Regions from separate parts of the Homo sapiens genome. Here all the other regions are reported to be linked to region 3. Evidence: microRNA targets listed by miRTarBase, many of them from high-throughput screens and not tested one by one. Region 3 holds a microRNA gene; each other region holds the end of a gene's coding sequence.

The links. Region 3 holds the annotated microRNA hsa-miR-4684-5p (CUCUCUACUGACUUGCAACAUA, at 3,381-3,402, opposite strand). A microRNA usually pairs through its seed, bases 2 to 8, with sites in the 3' UTR of a target mRNA and lowers its output. Matches are read on the target gene's strand: a 7mer-m8 pairs with bases 2 to 8, a 7mer-A1 pairs with bases 2 to 7 and ends in A, and an 8mer does both.
Region 1: the mRNA of ZNF528 is a reported target of hsa-miR-4684-5p. Seed matches in the 3' UTR shown: 7mer-m8 at 1,862-1,868, 7mer-A1 at 1,997-2,003 and 7mer-m8 at 2,230-2,236.
Region 2: the mRNA of DKK3 is a reported target of hsa-miR-4684-5p. The part of its 3' UTR that is shown has no 7-base or 8-base seed match.

Annotation. Positions count from the first base shown.
Region 1 is chr19:52,415,937-52,423,054 of GRCh38, forward strand. ZNF528 (zinc finger protein 528) reads left to right here. Exons shown (of 7, transcript NM_032423.3): 7 at 1-2,465. The coding sequence ends at 803. Among named protein-coding and RNA genes, the nearest start is that of ZNF534, 9.7 kb to the right of the region's middle. RefSeq lists enhancers at 4,580-5,345, 5,346-6,111.
Region 2 is chr11:11,958,533-11,965,650 of GRCh38, forward strand. It overlaps DKK3 (dickkopf Wnt signaling pathway inhibitor 3), which reads right to left. Exons shown (of 7, transcript NM_001018057.2): 7 at 4,504-6,154. The coding sequence ends at 5,932. It overlaps USP47 (ubiquitin specific peptidase 47), which reads left to right. Exons shown (of 28, transcript NM_001282659.2): 28 at 1-3,355. Among named protein-coding and RNA genes, the nearest start is that of DKK3, 47 kb to the right of the region's middle.
Region 3 is chr1:22,715,932-22,722,931 of GRCh38, reverse strand. It overlaps MIR4684 (microRNA 4684), which reads right to left and starts at 3,415; the gene lies at 3,334-3,415. The region is part of intron 1 of EPHB2 (EPH receptor B2); the gene reads right to left. RefSeq lists an enhancer at 5,079-5,768.

The DNA of each region.
Region 1 (7,118 bases), not on the chromosome of region 3:
TTTCAGTGCGTTCCAGCCTCATAACCCATCAGTTAATTCACACTGGAAGGAAACCTTACAAATGTAAAGAATGTGACAAGGTCTTTGGGCGCAAGTGTTTCCTGACCTCTCATCAGAGAATTCATACTAGAGAGAGACCTTATGGATGCAGTCAGTGTGGCAAGATCTTTAGTCAGAAATCAGACCTTATACGACATCGAAAAACTCATACTGATGAGAAGCCTTACAAATGTAATAAATGTGGCACAGCGTTTAGAGAGTTTTCAGACCTTACTGCCCATTTTCTAATCCATAGTGGAGAGAAACCTTATGAATGTAAAGAATGTGGCAAAGTCTTCAGGTACAAGTCTTCTCTAACCAGTCATCATAGAATTCATACTGGAGAGAAGCCTTACAAATGTAACAGATGTGGCAAGGTCTTCAGTCGCAGTTCAAACCTGGTATGCCATCAGAAAATTCATACAGGAGAAAAGCCTTACAAATGTAATCAATGTGGCAAGGTCTTTAATCAAGCATCATACCTTACAAGACATCAAATAATTCATACTGGAGAGAGGCCTTACAGATGTAGTAAATGTGGCAAAGCATTTCGAGGGTGTTCAGGCCTTACTGCCCATCTTGCAATCCATACTGAAAAGAAATCTCATGAGTGTAAAGAATGTGGCAAGATCTTCACTCAGAAGTCTTCCCTCACCAATCACCATAGAATTCACATTGGAGAGAAACCTTACAAATGCACCCTGTGCAGTAAGGTCTTCAGTCACAATTCTGACCTTGCACAGCATCAGAGAGTTCATTCATGAGAGTCCCTACAAACTGTATGGCAAAACCATCATCATGAGTTCTAGCATTAATCAACATCAGTGAGTCCATACTAAGTGGAAATCATATAAATGAAATGTATGTGACACAGGCTTTATCAAGGCCTGCCAAATCACTGGACATCACCACATCACTGTGGAGGATGAAAGCACACAGATGAATTGTGTGTACTTGGGCTATTATTCAAGGACCATTGCTATAGAACACGATAGGATTTACACAAGAAGTAACTCTGTCTCTGGTTCTCTGATACTAATCTATGATATTGCATGATGCAGAATAATGCTAAGTCAAAATATGTTGAATCTCATGACCTGATGTATATCAAAGGTGCAACGGCTTGTAAATGACCAGTTTTATTCAGGCTATAAAGCATTCAATTATTTGGGGCTTATAGAAAAGGCTACTTTACTCTTTGTGACTTCGAAATCTTTTCATGTGCCTTCCATACAGGCCATTCACTGTGGTCCCTGGGAAAGAATCAGTAGGATGACAGGGCTGACTTCATTAGCTGAGGATTATTTCTATCCAATTTCCTGATGAAGGACATTGCCTTTTGAGATTAAATATTGTCTGATTTAGAGAGCATGGAGGTGGGCAGAGTAACATAAAACTGATGACCGTCATCATACTGTTGCAGTTAGCACACTTTCTCCTGACATAAGTGCACAGAGCTTCAGTGTCCACCAACTGACCATGAAATAGAGTATGCTGTAATCTTAAGGCATAGGTTATTAGTGGGAAGAGAGTAATAGGTTGCTAGTGTCTGATTATATGGTAGAAATAATGCAAGGAAAAAGGTAGCCACCTTCTCCATTGAACAGCAGTACCTGCTGTTTAGCAAAGACTGATGAGAAGTAGACTTTTTTTTTTTTGGAGATAGAGTCTCACTCTGTTGCCCAGGCTGGAGTGTAGTGGTGTGTTCTTGGCTCACTGCACCCTCCGCCTCCTGGGCTCAAGCAGTCCTTCTGCCTTAGCCTCCTAAGTAGCTGAGACTACAGACGTGCGCCACCACACCCAGTTCATTTTTGTATTTTTAGTAGAGACAGTGTTTACCATGTTGGCCAGGCAGGTCTCCAACTCCTGACCTCAAGTGATATGTTCACCTCAGCCTCCCAAAGTGCTGGGATTACAGGCATGAACCATGGTGCCCAGCCTCATTTTTGAAATGGAATAGAGAACAGTTATATCACAGTTGAGAGTTTAATCAAAATGACCGGATCAGCATATTCTTTTTTTAGATGAGACAGAGTTTCGCCCTTGTCACCCAGGCTGTAGTGCGGTGGCGCGATCTCGGCTCACTGCAACCTCCGCCTCCCGGGTTCAAGCAATTCTCCTGCCTCAGCCTCCCAAGTAGCTGGGATTACAGGCGTGTACCACCATACCCAGCTAATTTTTGTATTTTTAGTAGAGATGGGGTTTCACCACGTTGGCCACACTGGTCTCAAACTCCTGACCTCAGGCGATCCATCTGCCTCAGCCTGAAAGTGCTAGGATTACAGGCGTGAGCCACCACACCTGGCCAGCTCAGCATATTCTTAAGTAGGATTCACATTTAATTCTTGGTATTATAAGTTGCAACCATTTGATTTAGAATGTATGCAGCTCTCATGTTTGTAGTAATAAAGTTTCATTTTTCCTAAGTATGAATGAATCGTGTTTTCTACCGTCATAATTTCATCCCACCTCAGGAGGATGGATACTCTGTAGCACACAGTAATGCACCATTGGGATTTTAAGATTGGAGCATCCAGAGCAAGTTTTCTGGTTGTGAAATGAAACATGTCCTTTGGTTACATATCCTTAGGTAAGTGTGAATATGAGTAATCATACTTAGTACTTGAATTATTGTATCTGTGCTCTGCCCTAGAATGCTTCTGTGGGTACAGTGAAAGTCCCAAAGCAGTGCAACTCCAGCATCCTATACCCTCAAATGTGTTTATAGCCCTTGGCAAATGTTTAGTGTATCATTATATTTCTATGTGCCTTTTTCTTGTGTGCTAAATTAGACCCATGGCACACATTCTCTCTTTTTTTTTTTTTTTTTTTTTTTTTGAGAGTCTTGCTCTGTCACCCAGGCTGGAGTGCAATGGCGCGATCTTGACTCACTGCAACCTCCACCTCCTGGGTTCGAGCAATTCTTCTGCCTCAGCCTCCCGAGTAGCTGAGATTACAGGCATCTGCCACCAGTCCTGGCTAATTTTTTTGTATTTTTAGTAGAGACAGGGTTTCACCATGTTGGCCAGGCTGGTCTCAAACACCCAACCTCAGGCGATCCACCCACCTTGGCCTCCCAAAGTGCTGGGATTATAGGCTTGAGCCACTGTGCCTGGCCCACACTTTCATTTTTATGAAGCAAAAATACAAATATGACAAATATTATGAGATAAAAGTGTGAGGATAAGGTTAAAAATAGTGTAACACAATCTCTTTTTTTGTCCTTGTGCTCAGTGACATAATTTGAAATTACTAATGTTCATAAATTTCCTCGTAAGGGTGGACACACAGAATGGAATTGTGTTTTGCTTTGGTATTTTAACAAGGAACTTCACATATTTACCCCCACAACCTTTGTGGTAATTTGAACTTTTGCCTACTCCACTAGAACCTTACAAAAAAAGTTTTTTTTTTTTTAAATTTGAGACAGGGTCTTTGTTGCACAGGCTGGAGTGCAGTGGCACAGTTAGGGCTCACTGCAGCCTCAACCTCCCCGGCTCAAGTGATCCTCCCACTTTAGCCTCATGAATAGCTGTGACTACAGGCGCACACCACCACACCCAGCTAATTTTGGGGTGTTTTTTGGTCACAGTGTTGCCCAGCTGGTCTCCAACTCTTGGGCTCAAATGACCCACCCACCTCAGCTTCCCAAAGTGCTAGGATTACAGGCATGAGCCATGTACCTGGCCTCCACTAGAACTTGTTTGACGTCCACCTAAGATTTGGCTTGGGTATTGAGACTGATGATGCTATGTACTGAAGGGGTCTGAGAATGTTTATTACATAATAAGACTTTCTGAGGAAAGCAGGTTAGACTTCCCCAGTTGGTCCAAAAATGTCATGAGAAAACTGGGATAGATGACTACTTTGGGTGTTATGATTGTTGAAGCGTCGGGCTGGGGTGTGGGTACTTACTTGTGGTTTGAACTAATACCTGGTGCCAAATGAGGGAGCACTCAGGCTTTATTATCAGTTGACCAGATGGGCATCATAATGTAGTCTCAGCAATGCACCAAGATGTAACAGTCTCTCATTTGAGATAACACTTTGGGTTCTTTGTCCTACCTCCAAGAAAAGGAGTGTGGACATAAAAGTGAGTTTGGAGCGAAAGTTTAATAAGCAAGAGGAGAAAGCTGTCTGCCAGCAGAGAGGGGCTCCTGAACAGGAGTACTCACTATGAGGTCCGTATTGGGGTTTTTATGGACTGGAAAGGGGAAGGAATGTGCTTAGTCTGCGGGCTGTCTTGGAGAATGCATGCCTCAGCTTGGCCCGGGACCTATTAGAAGCTGAAGTGAAAGCTTGGCCCAGGACCAATTAGGGGCTGAAGTGATGATTCATAGAAGCCAGACTTACAGTCCAATAAAGGAACCTGAACTTATTGGAGCACCTGAACTTATTGGAGCCCACTGTGCCCATGTCCACAAAGGGAGAAGAAACTTTTGCCTGGGAGCCCACTGACTCTACAAAGGCAAAAGGCATTTCTGTGCCAGGCCTGCTCCCTTATCTGAGTGAGATGGAGGTCTGTGCAAGTTTTTATCCAAATGGGCCTTTTCCATCTGTGCAGCCGTAGGCATAACACCTTGTGCTAGTTCCCTTATCGGTCCCTGCACCTTGAATTTTTTCCCAGGCTGCTTTTTCTGTTAGGTGGGGATGAGGCACTGACCCATGGGCCAGGGACTCTCCAGAGACCCTTTTCTTGCTATCTACCTAAGGCAAGTTAACTACCTCCTTTCATAGGAAGAAGGAATGCAGAGGTGTAAAAGCTGTTAGTATTCAGACATCACAAAATGTAGTCTAACTCTTTAGTACAAGACTAAATACTTCTTCTTGAAACTCCTGACTTCTTGGTTAGGAAAAACCCCAGTTTTCTTCATGGTGATAGCTGGTTACATTCCTCTCGGATGGACGTGTAGGTTTCACTGCACCTATGATTGTTGAAAATGCTTGTGAATTACTGTTTAGTAAAGTGTCTAGTAAAGGTGAAGGGGTGGGTTGCCCCTCCACACCTGTGGGTGTTTCTTGTTAGGTGGAACGAGAGACTTGGAAAAGAAAAAGACACAGAGACAAAGTATAGAGAAAGAAATAAGGGGGCCCCAGGGGACCAGTGTTCACCATATGGAGGATCCCGCCAGCCTCTGAGTTCCCTTAGTATTTATTGATCATTTTTGGGTGTTTCTCAGAGAGGGGGATGTGGCAGGGTCATAGGATAATAGTGGAGAGAAGGTCAGCAGGTAAACACGTGAACAAAGGTCTCTGCATCATAGACAAGGTAAAGAATCAAGTGCTGTGCTTTAGATATGCATACACATAAACATCTCAATGCCTTACAGAGCAGTATTGCTGCCCGCATGTGCCACCTCCAGCCCTAAGGCGGTTTTCCCCTATCTCAGTAGATGGAATATACAATCGGGATTTATACCGAGACATTCCATTGCCCAGGGACGGGCGGGAGACAGATGCCTTCCTCTTGTCTCAACTGCAAAGAGGCATTCCTTCCTCTTTTACTAATCCTCCTCAGCACAGACCCTTTACGGGTGTCGGGCTGGGGGACGGTCAGGTCTTTCCCTTCCCACGAGGCCATATTTCAGACTATCACATGGGGAGAAACCTTGGACAATACCTGGCTTTCCTAGGCAGAGGTCCCTGCGGCCTTCCGCAGTGTTTGTGTCCCTGGGTACTTGAGATTAGGGAGTGGTGATGACTCTTAAGGAGCATGCTGCCTTCAAGCATCTGTTTAACAAAGCACATCTTGCACAGCCCTTAATCCATTTAACCCTGAGTGGACACAGCACATGTTTCAGAGAGCACGGGATTGGGGGTAAGGTCATAGATTAACAGCATCTCAAGGCAGAAGAATTTTTCTTAGTACAGAACAAAATGGAGTCTCCTGTGTCTACTTCTTTCTACACAGAAACAATCCGATCTCTCTTTCTTTTCCCCACAAAAGTTGCCTGAGATACGTTTTATCCTAGTTCAATGAAAATTATTGTACAAAAGTGTTTATTATAAAATCAACATGATTTGTTTATTGTTTATTGATTATATAATTATATTTATTATACAATAAATATGATTTTGCTAGAAGAGCATTTTGCCAAAAGTTGTGGAAATGTCATTGTCAGATTATGGTATGAAGCAATTTTTTCAGGCTGAGTGGGGGTGGCTCACCTGTAATCTCAGCACTTCGGGAGGCCAAGGTGGGAGAAATCACTTGAGCCCAGAAGTTCAAGACCAGCCTGGGCAACATAGCAAGAGCTTATGTCTACAAAAAAATTTTAAAAATAGCCGGGTGTGGTCATGTACACTTGTGGTCCCAACTACTTAGGGGCACTGCAGCAGGAGGATCGTTTGATGCCAGAAGGCTGAGGCTGCTGTCGTCCTTGATTGTACCACTGCACTCCGGCCTGGATGACAGAGGGAGACACTGTGTCAAAAAAAATTTACTTTGTGCTTCTTTATATGAGTTACATTAAAAATCTTTTATAAATTGCAGTCCAGGTTCCATGTCTAATACGTTTCTTCCATGTGTTACTTGAGTGAAAATTTACGGGCTACATAAATATGGCTGTTGTTTGGAAAGAAAATGTTGTGACATTAGTATGCGCACAAGACAATGGGAAGTACGAACTAGGATTCCTGTAAATACGAGAAAGGAAAAGAATGCTTTTACTATGTTAGAAGACTTAAAATCACATGAAGTGATTCCAGTCTTTCTGTTGTTATTCCGATGTTTTAGCTATTTTAGATTTTGGGGTTTGGCTTTTTTTTGTTTCATTGCCTTTCTACATAATTGGATAACCTTGTTAGTATCTGCAGAATGCCCTGATTAGGAAATGTGTTAACCCTATGTGTCAATTTGGTATAATTTCATATTGTTTTCATATTGTTTTATGTGGAGTCTTCCAATAAATGTATATTGTATATGTGTCTGTATTTGGTGTCTTTGATTTCTTTCATCAACATTTTGTAGTTTTAACATAATGGTTCTATGAATGTTTTGTTTGGCACGTATTTCTTTGACTTTTTTTTAAGACACAGTCTCACTCTGTTGCCCAGGCTGGAGTACAGTGGTGTGATCT
Region 2 (7,118 bases), not on the chromosome of region 3:
CGGTGGAGCCTCATGATCTCTTATCTTTTGAGGCTGAGGCAGGTCACATGCAACAAATTGTGACCCTGCTCCCCACAAGTCATGCAAAGGTTTTGAAGAGCTTTTACCGTGGGGCAGATGAACTTGTGTCAACCATGCACACCCTGTGAGAACCAAGTACCTGTGTTTCTAAGGCGGGCACTCAAGGTGAGGGGTGCATTCTGGCCAAAGAAACAAAAGCTGTGGTTTCAGGACCATGCCGTGTGTAGCTGATCTGTACGGGACGTGTATGTAAGGAAGAGCAATCATGATAGATAAGAACAGTGTGTGAAGCAGCCTTCACACTAGAGTGTTTGGTCATCTCTTATAATGTAAGGGAAGGTACTTTAAAATTCTGGGAAGATGCGATGAACTCATGTCCCAGTCAGAAAATAATCCAATGAAATAAGCATTGGTTGCCAGGCCACAGTTAGGAATTGTATTGTGATACATCTAGAGGCCAAGAGAGCAGGAGAGAGCTACCAACTTACACTGTGGTTTAAGCTAAATGACCGCACAGCATCATAGCATTGCAGTGTTGTTACTAAATCTGGAAGTGACCTGTGAATGTATGGAATACAATAAAGTCTTTTATTCTGGTTCATTTGCTAGTACTTCCTTTTTGATTGGATACTGTAGTTCTTCCTCTGGATTTTATTTTGTTCAGCGTCAAGGCCCTAATTTTGCAAATGTAGTCTAAACCACATTACGTGGACTAGAGGATACTCTGAATTAGCAAGTTTTTTGTTTGCTGAATAAAACTATTCCATCTTAACAATTCTGTGTAATTTTTGAAAAACATCAACATTTTGGTCACTAGTAGTCAAAATCTTATAAGGCCATATGTCCTGAAAGGCAAAACTCTGTGTATGTGCGATTTACCAGGGAGATAGTAGGACAGTTTTTATGAGGGTTTCAAAGGAGTTCATGGCCCAAATGAAGCTTGTGGCCACCTAGGTTTAGTGTACATGAAATTGGAAGATGCTTCTTGATTGTAGTTCCCATGGGGAAGAGGGAGGCTGTGATCATTTGGTTAGATACAGCATTAATTGTCACAACTTGACTTTCAGAAACAAGAATACTGCACAAACTCAAGCATGCATTGGAGCATGTGTTACTATTTAGAAAAGAGTGCAGCCATCAGTAGGTCAAGCTAGGAGGGCAAAAGAGAGTTGAGAGGAATGCTCTGCCCCTTCCCCATCACAGCACTGCCCCTTTCCACCTCCTCACCAGCTCACCTGTACAAGAGAATTGATCTCAACTGAGTGTCAGCTCACCAGGTCAGAAATTGTTATTGGACCCTAAAACCTTGCCTCACAGGTGGGCACCAAGCTCCCCTTCCCTCTGCTTTCCATGTTTCCCACCTGCCCTCTCCCCACCTGTTTTCAGCCTCTTTTATAATGCTTAAGTAACCTGCTTGAAGAGTATAATTTATGGAGATAAAAATACTCAATGCTTACATTTTTTTCATAACTGTGCCAATTGTTTTGTCAAATGCAGTTACCCACTGGGCAGTGGGCTTATCAAGTGCTCAGTGCAATCCTGTGACTTTTAAGTCATTTTGCATTATTAAGACAATCTTATCTTAAAGTTCAGTGGTTTCATTCAAAGCTCCCCTGAACCTCCATAGTGCCTCCAAGATGTGCTGTCCCTGCCAACTCCTGCACCAGCTTGACTGGTGGTGGAAGAGGCCAGGAAGAGCGGGGGGAAGACATGTGCTAACCACTTCTTAGCAATGAGGCTGGTAAGGTTACTGTCCCCTTGTGCCTGGTCACTAGTAACTTTTTTGTAGACATGAAGGTAGATGCCCTGCAGGTCCTATCAGCAAAGGACCCAACTCCTAACAGCATTGGTGCTCCCTCATGAAATTTGACAGTGTCTTGCCAGCCTCCTGCTGGCAGACACTTCTCTGCAGTGAATACCACTATCCCATGCTGCACTAGTCCCTACCAAGTCTTCAACCCTCAATTTGATCTTCCATGAGTGTCTCAAAAAGTTCCCCTCAGAAGTTTCAGCCAAGGGAATAAAATCTAACCTCTCCTCCCTCAACGGAGTGTCAGGGAGGGGAAGAATCTGTTTTCCAAACACCACAATCTCCCAAAAGGGGATTTCACCCTCCCTTGGTCATCTTTATACAGGGCAATTGTGCTGCTGCTGCTGAGGTGGCCACTTTCAGCAAGCCCTGTGTGCAGGGGCCTAGCTGCATTTAGAAACCAAGCATAGCTATCAAAAAGTAATCTCCAAATAGTTGAATTGCATTTCTTGAGTATCTGGAGAGGATGTGCAGACCACAGGAATACCTAATGCCTTTTTTCTCTTCCTGTCTTTGTCCCTCACACTACAGCAGGCCCCTCCCTTCCCTCTTCAACCTCATCCTCCCTCCCCACAGGCCCAGAGAACCAGTTGGGCTTTGTTCTCCTGCAGGCTATGGTTCATCATGCAAATAGCTCCTGTGTCAGAAATGCTTTTTGGCTTCAAATAACAGAAAAGCTAACACCAGCTTTATCAATAATAATATCGGTGGTTTACTTAAGGTGTCCAGAGATGGTGGAGAACAGGATTGGTTTCCTCCTCAATGTCAAGGACTCAAAGACTCTTTCTGTGGTAGGGCCACATCCTAAACCCTGTATCCTGTGATTATTTACCTGACAGGGCAAAAGAGATTTTGCAGATGCAATTAAGGTTAAGGACCTTGACGTGGGAAGATTGTGATTATTTACCTGACAGGGCAAAAGAGATTTTGCAGATGCAATTAAGGTTAAGGACCTTGACGTGGGAAGATTATTCTGGATTATCTAGGTGGGCGCAATTTGATCACATGGGTCCCCAGAAGTGGAGAACCTTTCCCACCTGTAGAAAGCCAGAGAGCTGGCACCTGAGAAGGACAGAACTGTCATTGCAGGATTTGAAGATGAAGGGGCCCATGAGCCAAGGAATGCCAGTGACCTATAGAGGCTAAAAAACAGCAAGGAAATGGACTCTCCCCAGAGCCTCCAGAGGAATGCAGCCCTGTTGATCACATGATCACCAGATGGCTGCCCCAGAGCCAAATGTCGCTTCCTGAGCACCATACTCAAAGGCAGGGGAAGTGGATGGAGGGCAGGAGCTCCATTCTTGTTTGCCACTCTCCTTTTGTCAATTGGGAAAAAATTCCAGAAACTCTGGGAGCCCTCCCCTTACATTTCCTGGGTCATGGGGCCAGCCCTAGCTGCTGGAGGGACTGAGAACAGCTGTTGAGCAGTTTACCTGACGGCATCTGCCATGGCTTGGCAGGAACTCTGGCTTTGGGAGAGAGCAGCAGCAAGGTATTCAAGCACCACCTCCACCCAGCCCCTCCCACATTTCACTCAGGACTGAGTAAAGGAGACACTCAGATGCTACTCAGATGCTGGCTTCAGCTAAGTATTTTGCAAAGCCTCTCGTGTTCTTACAAGTTTGTGGCTATCATGACAAAATGGAGCAGCCTACTATATCTACATATACAACTATGGGGGACCTAGTTTTATCTCATTTACCACAATGTTTTCAATCATTTTTTGGATGACATAATTTTTAGCCTCTTCTCTAAATGCTTCCTCAAGCTTTCCTTGCCTTCCAGCCACTGCAAATGACTTGCAGTTTCCCCTACATGGCACCTGACCCTTGTGCCTCCCTCCCTCTGCCCATGGCCCAGAAAGCCCTTTCCTGTGCCCTCTGGCTTCCTGATAAACTCCTATCATCTTCAAGAGCCAGTTCCCATGCCAGCTCTCCCCAAGTGCTCCACTGAGGCTTCCGTAACACCTCTGTTCCCACATCGGGTTGACTGTCTTTGTTTTGTCATTGCTTGCTCTGGCTGTGTCTCCCTCATTAGACTGGGATGCCTTCAAGGTAGGGACCCTATCTGGGTCAGCTTGGCACCCCAAAGCGTACCACAGCACCTGATTCTGAGGAGGCTCTCAGTAGATATCTGTTGAGTAACCAGAATGTAGGGTGGTCCTGATGGTTTCTGACATTGAATAGAAAACAGCTCCCTATTTGATCTTAAAATAATCACTATAACCTGGACATACTGTACTAGATGCTGTTTTTGTCTGACTTCTACTCTGTCAATCTCTTTGCACCTCCATTTGTTCATCTGTGAAATGAAGAAAATGCTCATGGAGTTCAGTGAAGATTAAATGAATGAATATAGGTAGACTGCCTAATCTGGCACTTGCCACGCAGCTGACTTCAATATAGTAGCTCTAATATTATGGTCCTTGAGGATCTTACTGTCTTATGGCCCAGAACTGCATTTGATTAAAGAAGGCTCCCCTAAAAAAAGAGTCATACATATTCCATTTGTCCTTTCAGAAGGCCGTGAAGCATTTACACTCTTTAAGACAAATTCCCATCCAAAAATAGTTAAGATTTCTAAAATATTTTGATGCTGAAAGAGGTGTGCTTCAGTTGGGTGGCAAATTTGCTTCTATGGAAGATTTTTAATACAGGTTGTTTCTATTTTACTTTTTCTGGCTGAAAGGATTTTACATTTATTCAAAGTCAAAAGGGAAAAGAAATCCAAGAACTACAGAAGAGCAGTTGAAGTGATTTATGCTTGATTTCTAAATGCAACTTATGTTTATACATAATTTAAAACTCAAAGAAAGCATGCTTATACAATCATGTGCAACTTTAAACTTTAAGAACTCTGGATGAATACATGGTGGCAACAGTCCATGACACCTGAAAACATCATTTGTGGAGTGGCGTAGAGTTCAGTGTTCGCAGTCGCATATTACAACCATGTTTCACACAGCCCTGCTCGGTTTGATTTTCTCCACGTGGTTGATAATTGTCTTCAGTTGCTGCTAAGTGATTTTGCAAATTTCATTTATAATCCTCGCCCTACAATTACCTAAGTACTGTTTCTGCAGGTTAACCTGTATGCTACGCTCAGTCATATACCTTTCAAAGTTACTAATGCAACTGCCAAAGAGGGACAGTGTCAATATCATTGTCTTCATTAGAAGGACGGCTGCCCCACACTGTGAGAACACTGCTGTTCCTAACAGTAGTTTACTTTTAGAGGGATGTGAGAATTAGTTTGACCTTAATTCCAGATGTGCATGCCTCAAAAGAAAAATCCCATTCTCCTTCCTTTTGGGGAGCACTTTTGGTGGCACCAAGGCTGGTGTGGGGTAGTGGAGAGAGCACTGAGCTTAGAGTCACAACCAGATGAAACTGCTCTGGTCTTCACTAGCTGTGTGACTTGGGCAAGCAGCTTGCAGTCTCTGAGCCTCTGAGATCCCTGATGGACGAGGAGAACAATGACCCCCTCCCCAGGCTGTGCTGAGAGAGGGAATTGATCTTGGATATGAAAATGCTGCCCTGGCACAGAGGTAGGAGCTGAGCAACACTGCTGGATGAATAAACACATGTAATGCAGGGTGAACAGAACATTTCATCTGCAACAGCTGAAGGCACAGCTTACCTATGCCCATGGAAAGAACTGCGTGGAAAATTCATTTGTTGCATTTTTGCCAGGTTGATGTTTGCAAAGCAGGGCACTCTTCTCCACATTTCCCCAAAACCAATCAGAGGGAGACTCCACATTGTTTCCATCTCCTCCCCTCAAACAATTATCAAAGCCATGTAGAACAAACGGCTGTCTGCCAACTGGTAGAGGCAAAGCAGCCAATAATCTGGACAGGGGTGGCAAACTGCTCCTGCAGTTTAACCCTGCCTGACTCTCCCAAGCACCAGACTGTGAAGCCTGGAGAACAGCCTGGGGGAGCTGAACAAATGCACAACACCTCATGCTGTCAAGCCAGAGGGGAAACTTACTGGGAAGAAGATGTAGGAAGAAGCCTGGTCAGCCCACGCCTAAAGCACACACCTGGGGAAATAAATTAGCTATTTCTATTGCACATCTACCCACAGCCTGGTCCAGATCTAAATCTCTTCCCCTCCCAGCAGTGCAGCGGCGGCAGCCGCAGGCTCCCTCAGCGCCATCTCTTCAGTCAGGCTCCTCTCCAGGTCCTCCAGCTCCTGGCGCACCTCCTCCATGAAGCTGCCAACTTCATACTCATCGGGGACCTCTCTGGGCAGCAGGATCTCCCCATCTTGGTCACGGCTCCCCACGAAGGTCGGCTTGCACACATACACCAGGCTGTGGCTGGGGAGAGATGGGACAAAGCCAGGCTCTAAACGTGGGAGCCTGCCCAGGCCGAAAGCTAAGGCGCCCTGACTCTGTGGGGCTCCCAGCCTCACCTTCATGCCCCCTCCTCTCCTGTCTCTTCAACAGAGACACTTCACTTCCCGTCAACATCTATCTTAAAATGATGGCTGAGGGAGGCTCACTTTGGGAGAATGTGCTGGTGGGGGGCAGCTTCCCCTCCTCCAGCGCAGGCCTGACCTCCTGTGACTCTCAGGCCCCGCAGCCCAGGGGCAGGACCTGAGTGCTATGTAGCAGCACCACAGCCCCTCAAAGACTGTGGCCCATTCGGGCCTCCAGGCAGGAGTCAGCCTGACTCTGGGGTGTAGTCTAGCCACATGCAGGGAGCCATGGACCTCTGTGGGAATAGGGAGGAAGAATTCCTTTTTTTAAAAAAAATTAATGTGTTTGGTAGAGACGGGATCTCCCTATGTTGCCCAGGCTGGTCTTGAACTCTTGGCCTCAAGCAATCCTCCTGCATTGGCCTCCCAAAGCTCTGGGATTACAGGTGTGAGCCACTGCACAGAGCCGTGGGGAATGGGAGTTCTGCCTGTCTGCCCAGCAGCCCTGGATTCTGTTGGGAGAGAAGACTGAGTAGAGGCTGCGGGGAGGACAGGGAGATGTGCCCTGAGAAGCTGGCCAGGCTTGAGCCTCATGCCTCATGGAGTCTCAGCAGCCTCAGACAGTGTGGGCTGCACCCTCCACCTTGGTGGCCACTCCTGGCCTCCCCGTGGCCTCTCTGCCAGCTCCTTTTTCTCTGCTTATCTGTCATTGTGACAGGTCTGGGGAGGGAGCCCAGGCTTTTCTCCCTCCATGTCCTCTCCATGGACCATCCACTCATGAAGCTTCAGCCACCAGCTAGATGAGCCCCAGATCTGTGCCTCCTGGGCAGCCTGGGCTCCAGACCCCTAGAACCGACTGCTGA
Region 3 (7,000 bases):
GTTCCTGTTGCCTGGAATGGCTGCCTTGCTGCTTCTTCACCTGGCTCTTCCTTAAGAATCATCTTAGAAGTCGCCTCTTCCAGGACGCCTTGTCTAACCTCATTGTATAGTTCAAGAAGCTGAGGCTCAAAGAGCTAAGAGGGCCAAGGTAACACTGTTAAGTGTCAGAGCCAGAGGTCCAACGTAGCATGGTTCTAGTCTAAGACCACGCTGCTTTTCATTCATTCTGCCAACTCTACCTCCCTCAAGAAGAAACCTAGGGAAGACATGCTTTCTGCCTTCAAACATGGCAGATGCCTGCAAGATGGCTCTTACGTTCCTGGATTGTTCTGGAGCGTGGAAAACAGGGATCATGCAGGGAAGTTACAGGGAAAGAGACTCCCCATTTCAAGGTGAGGAGCCATGTTTTAACACCTCCCAGTGCCTAACAGCTATGTAACCTTGAGTAAGTCATTGAACCTCAACTTCCCCATTTGTACAATGGTGCTAACAATACCCTTGCTATTTCTTTACCCCAAATACCTAAGGTTGTAAACTGCCAGCCAGTGAGCCAAATCCAGCCAGCAAACATGGTTTGGTTTGGCCAGAACTGTATTTTAGAATAAAATGAGTAAACATTCAAAAACCAGTTTTCAGACCAGGCATGGTGGCTCACGTCTGTAATCCCAACAATTTGGGAAGCTGAGGCAGGTGGATCACTTGAGGCCAGGAGTTTGAGACCAGCCTGGCCAACATGGCAAGACTCCGTCTCTACCAAAAAGAAAAAAAAAATGCTGGGCATGGTGGTAGGTGCCTGTCTTTACTCAAAATACAAAAATTAGCCAGGCGTGGTGGCACATGATTGTAGTTCCAGCTACTCAGGAGGCTGAGGCCCAAGAATTGCTTGAACCTGGGAGGCAGAGGTTGCAGTGAGCCAAGATAGTGTCACCGCACTCCAGCTTAGGCAACAGAGCGAGACTCAAAACAAAACAAAACAAAAACCAGTTTTCCCATAAGCATCAGAACTTTGCAAATCAGGCTGGGCGCAATGGCTTATGTCTGTAATCCCAGCACTTTGGGAGGCTGAAGAAGGAGGACTGCTTGAGTTCACAAGTTCAAGACCAGCCTGGGCAACATGGTGAAAGACTCTGTCTCTACAAAAAAAAAAAAAATGCTGGATGCGGTGGCAGGTGCCTATGGATCCAGCTACTTGGGAGGCTGAGGTGAGAGAATTGCTTGAGCCCAGGAGGTCAAGGCTAAGTGAGCTGCGATTGCGTCACTGCACTCCAGCCTATGAGACAGAGTGAGACCCTGTCTAAGAAAAAAGAGAGAGGAAAAAAAAGAACTTTGCAAATCAGAAGATGTGGCAAAACCGGACACAGATTCCTGTGTGACAACATGGTCAGGAGTGGGTAGCACCTGCCTTTTTTAGACTGGACATGCGCTCTTACTGGGGGCACTATTATACTTCCAACAGTCAAGTCACCTCACTCATTCACAACGCAGGCCAGCTCACAAGTCTGGAGTCTCTGATCAAGACTCTTGTGATTTATTCCCGGTATTACGTTAGGCCAGATTTCCTGGTCTGCCAGCAAACAGAAGGCCAATTTCTTGCTCAATGGTTTAATGCGTCAACTTTGACTATGTGTTGCCCAGGTCCCCCTCAACTGTCTTTGGAAGCAACGCTCAGAGCTCAGTGGTCCCACCCACTCACTTCACTGTTTGTACACATTTCCATGTGCTCTGGGGCCAGCCTGTGGTCCAAACTTAATTTGACAATAACTGGCCCATGCCTTTAGAATTTTTTCTTTTCCTCTAATGCTTCCCCACTCCTGCGATGACCTCTGGCCAAGGTGGGAGTGACAACCAGTCACCCCCTTACCCGGTCTTTCATAGTAGAATGAAGAACACAGTTACTCCTCGGCACAGCCTTCTGTAGTGCCTGAAATTATGATGCCCAGTTCGCTGATAAGGAAAATGAGGCCTAGAGGGGTGAAGTGACCTGCCCCAGGCCACAGGAGCACCAGGGACCCATCTTTTCAGTTCAATCCCACCAGCCCAAGGCCCCTTTCTCTGGCCTCACACCTCATACTAGGTCTTGAATATCTACAACTCCAGGCTGCCATTTTTCATGAATTTTAGGTTCGTTTATTGCACAAACATCTATCTAATATCTATCATGAGCCAAGCCTTGTGCTGTACATAGTGAAGTGGAAAGTCCCTGCCTTCTCAGAAGAGGCAGATAACACTGAAGACAATTCGGGGGTAAGTGCTGGGGCGGGGGGGGGGGGGAATGAGATTTCTGGCTTCCTGTTGCCTCCCCACCGCCATCCCTGGACTGGACGATAAACTACCTGTGAGAGGCTGTCTCCAAATATGGCTGCCAACAATTCCTCCCCCTACTAAACACGAAGCCACTCCTCCCAGTAAGGGGGCGTCTAGATTCAAGTTTGGACCACAGGTTGGCCCAAGAAACATGGACAACAACAGGGTGCAGGGGCGGGCACTGAACTCTGAGTGTCACCTGATTCAGTGGGTCAGGACATGTTGAGTGGGACGCTGGATAACCCACCATTAAATTTTCCATGCTGAACAGCTGAGCAAGAAATGGGACTTCTCTTCAAGGATAAAACAAAAAAATCAAGCCCAGTATATTTTCCTTTTCCTTGAACCTGATGAGGAAGCCTGGGATGAATCTGAGCTGGTGTTGTGACTGGCTTTGACCACCACAGAAGGCTGCAGGGGTGACACTTTGTGACATTAGAGCCCAGCCCTTAAGAAGCCTTGCAGTTTCCATTTCACCATCTTGGGAGCTAATTGCCATGGATAGAGGCGCAGTCTAGACTAGCAAAGGATGGGAGATAGCGAGGAGCGTAGGGGGACCAGCCTTCCAGCCTTCTCTATGAGGGCCTCAAAGATGTATGTGAAGCCACGATGGAATTTCCAGCCCAACCTAGCTGAGTGCAGCCTCCTGAGTGATCCCAACTGACAACCCGGGGAACAGAATAAGCACCCAGCTGAGCCCAGCCAATCCACTGAATCAGGACAACTAAGAAATCATTATTGTTTTAAGCCAGTAGGTTTTGTGGTGGCTTGCTAAAGATAAGTGATATGCTTTTCAGGAGTGGAGTCCTGTACTTTTTGTAGCTCTCCCTTCCCTTGCCTGAACCCCTGAACCCTGGCAATGGGCACTGAATCCTGGAGCTGGAAGAGGCCTCCAAAATCACTGAGTCTCACCCCTGTCATTTTATAGAAGAGAGAGCTGAGGCTCGGGAAGCCATGCAATTGACTCCAGGTCACACAGGGTAACAGGGGCAGATCCAGGAGGCAAACTCAAGCCCTTACAGGGGTTGAGCACCAAGGGTACGTCTCCACCGACTTGCAACACACCAAGACAAATGTATGTTGCAAGTCAGTAGAGAGGTACCCCTGGTGCTCACACATTCTGTCTTAAGAGGCAGTCACTCCAGCCAACTGTGGCCATGTGGGAATGTGGGCCCTGTGAAACCAGATTGTCTGACTTTTCAGAAACGCCAGAAACAGGACTTTTCTGTAAAATCTCTTGATTTTCAAATGTTGGCTAAGAATTTGAACTGGATAGATGAGCTATTAAGATTGGCCCTGGGCTTCAAGCTTGGTCCCGCTGCTGGCTTTGGGCGAGTCATATTATCTCCCAGACCTCAGTTTCCTCATCTCTAAAGTGGGCCCCGTGGCTCCTGCCCCTTTCAGGATGGCTGTGAAGGCCTGATGAGCTATTGTATTTGGAAGTACAAGCTGCAAATGGCCCTGTGACTGTTTCGTAGTCTCCATTCTCTGTGGAGGCGCCCCTTACAACATAATGAGTTAACACCCGATTTGTCTAAGTTAGAACAACATTATTCTGACCATTATCACAGAGATTGCATTTTTATGGCAGGTTTGTGAGTTGTAGAACCCTCCCATTGCATTATCTCAGGATGTTGATGGAGCTGGAAGCTGGACAGCTGCCTTAGAGACCCTCATCAGAGCCAAGCCTTTCCTCTGAGCAGGGAGGCACATTCTAGAAGTGGAGAAGAGCATGAGCTCTGGAGTCACCAGACTTGGGTTTCAATCGCTGCCTCACCACTCCCTAGGTGTCCTTGGGCCAGTCACTCCTCTCAGAGCTTTGGTTTTCTCATCTGTAAAATGGGCACAATAATACAACGACCTGTGGGGCTCTTGGGGCAACTGCACAAGGCAACACACATAATGCTGTTAGTACAATGTCTGGCACAAGAATTGACAGCTGCTGGGCGCGGTGGCTCACACCTGTAATCCCAGCACTTTGGGAGGCCGAGGCAGGTGGATCGCCTGAGGTCAGAGTTCGAGACCAGCCTGACCAACATAGTGAAACCCCATCTCTACTAAAATATACAAAAAATTAGCCGGGCATGGTGGCAGGCATCTGTAATCCCAGCTACTCAGGGAGGCTGAGGCAGGAAAATCTCTTGAACCCGGGAGGCAGAGGTTGCAGTGAGCCGAGATTGCACCACTGCAGTCCAGCCTGGGCAACAAGAGCAATACTCTGTCTCAAAAAAAAAAAAAAAAAAAAAAAGAATTGACAGCCATTCCCATGATCATGGCAGGGAAGGTGGTGCCTGGCAGGCACTGGGCAAAGAAGGAGGGTACAGCCATGAAGGAGTCTACCCCTTTCCCAGATTAGGGAGGCTGAATTGGAGTGGGGAGGGGGCCTTTGAGAAAACCTGGATGGTACCCTGAGTGGGCAGGCTGGAGGGGCCTCTCAGCTACTTGGCAAGCCAGTCAGACCCTTGCCCTGTAAGGCTCAGAACACAGTGGGTGGGGGAGAGCTGGAGATGAAAAACCTGGTACACTGGCCCCCTGTTCCCCTACTGTGAATTGAGCTTCCCATTGGTAGAAAGCAAGGATAGCAACCGTTCACATTTATTGCAAGCTTAGCACACCTGAGGCACACACTCAGCTTAGTCTTCCTCAGATTAACACATCCATTGCTCACAACCATCTCAAGAGCTAGGAACAATGATTACCCCCATTTGAAAGATGAGGAAACCAAGGCTCAGAGAGGTGAAAACACAAGCCAGAGGACACACAGTACGGAGCAGTCTGACTCCACACACATTTCCTGTAACCCCCAGGCTCTGCTGTTTATAGAACAGGAGAGAAAGTGATCAGGGCTAAGCAAAGCCTCTGTAGGACTTCAGAGAAAGGGACAAGTCATTCTGGCCAGGGGCACGAGGGTGCTGCTGACATTTAATGGTTACGGAAACTAATAAAGAATGGACACAGCTGAGTGCCAGGCAGTTCTGCCAGTCATGGTACACAGCATCTCACTGAATCCTCGCCATGAGCCTCTGACACATGCGCGGTATTCTCCAGTTTCCAGATGAGGAAGCTGAGGCTCAGAGAGTGGATCACTTGGTCAAGGCCACACAGCAGGCAAGGTCCCCTCTTCTGAGGACACTCCCACCCCACAGGGGCTGCAGCAGGGGGGCAGATGGCTCCAGGAAGCTCACCTAGTGAGGGTGTCCTAGGCAAGCCCCCAGATGACACGGGGGTACTGGGGAGACAGGTGTCCCCCTCCTGCACCCTCCGGAAGGCAGCTGCTTTAAAAGGCCCTAAAATGCTTTCAAGGCAGCCTTATCAGAAGGCCTGAGCTGATCCCAATCAGGGAGCCTCCAGGTGCTGCCACAATCAACAACTGCCTGGCCTGCTGCCCCACCCCTGGGAGCTGTGCAAACATTCTTTCCTTCCCTGCCTTCCCCCAGCTAACCCTCTTTTTATGCACGAGCCAGCGGCAGCCAGGGCTGGTGGGCGCTAACTCTGATTGATTTCACTTCATTTCAGTCTTTTCCAGTTTCCTGCTGAGGTTTCTCTTCCTCTTTCCCAGGAGTCCTGTGTTTTATCATAGGCCGCTGGGGGGCAAATTTGCCTGCCTAATGGAAAGACCTGGAGAGTATGTTAAAAATACAGACTCCCCAACCTTGTTCCCCATCTCCCAGATCTCCAGCTAAGTCAGGCATGCAGGTGCCAGGTCAGGAGACGGGTCCTTGGTCGGAGGTGTGGAAGATCCTCCCGTCAGGAGGCCCACCGTGCTCTGCATCTCCGCCACCCTCAGTGGGAGCATGGGTCCCCTGCCTTGCCCAGCCCAGGCATCCTGTCACCAGCAGGCTCCATCTGCCCCTTCCTGTTAGGGGCCTTTCTATGTGCAGAGGTCCAGTCTCCAGTCTAAACTCACAGGTGAGCTCTGGGCAGGCAGAGTTGACCAGAGGCTACCACGGGCTGAATGCCCAGCAAACTGGCCCATAGAATCTGTCCCAGGCAGGGCACAGTGGCTCAGGCCTGTAATCCCAGCACTTTGGGAGGTCAAGGTGGGTGGGTCACTTGAGGTCAGGAGTTCGAGACCAGCCTGGTCAACATGGTGAACCCCCGCCCCGTCTCCACTAAAAATGCAAAAAAATTAGCCGGGTGTAGTGGCACATGCCTGTAGTCCCAGCTACTCCGGAGGCTGAGGTGGGAAGATGGCTTGAACCCGGGAGGCGGAGGTTACAGTGAACCGAGATGGCACCACTGTGCTCCAGCCTGGGTGACAAAGTGAGACTCCATCTCGAAAAAAAAAAAGAACCTGTCCCCACTTTGGCGCTGATGAAGAGCCTTGAGGAAGTAGGGCCTAGGACAATCCCACAGGAGGGAGGGGGCCCATCCAATGTTCTATGACAATTTCAGGGTGAACAAAGATCCCCAGGACTTAGGAGGCTTAGGGACCCCAGATGACAGTCCCTCTGGACTAGGAATCTGAGTATTTTCCCCTGATGGGGCTCTGGAGAAAGAGGCAGGGATGGAGTCTGAGTCTGTCCACACTTGGGGGGTTACCATCCCGAGTCTGGGGGAAGTTGGGAGCTTGTGGGGTGGGTTAGGGGAGACACTGAAGGCTGATCTGGTGCCTGGACAAATTAAATGCCAAAAAGGGGGCCACGTCGCCATCATTGAGGGAAGGACCTTAGAGGGGTTGAGACCAGCATTTAAT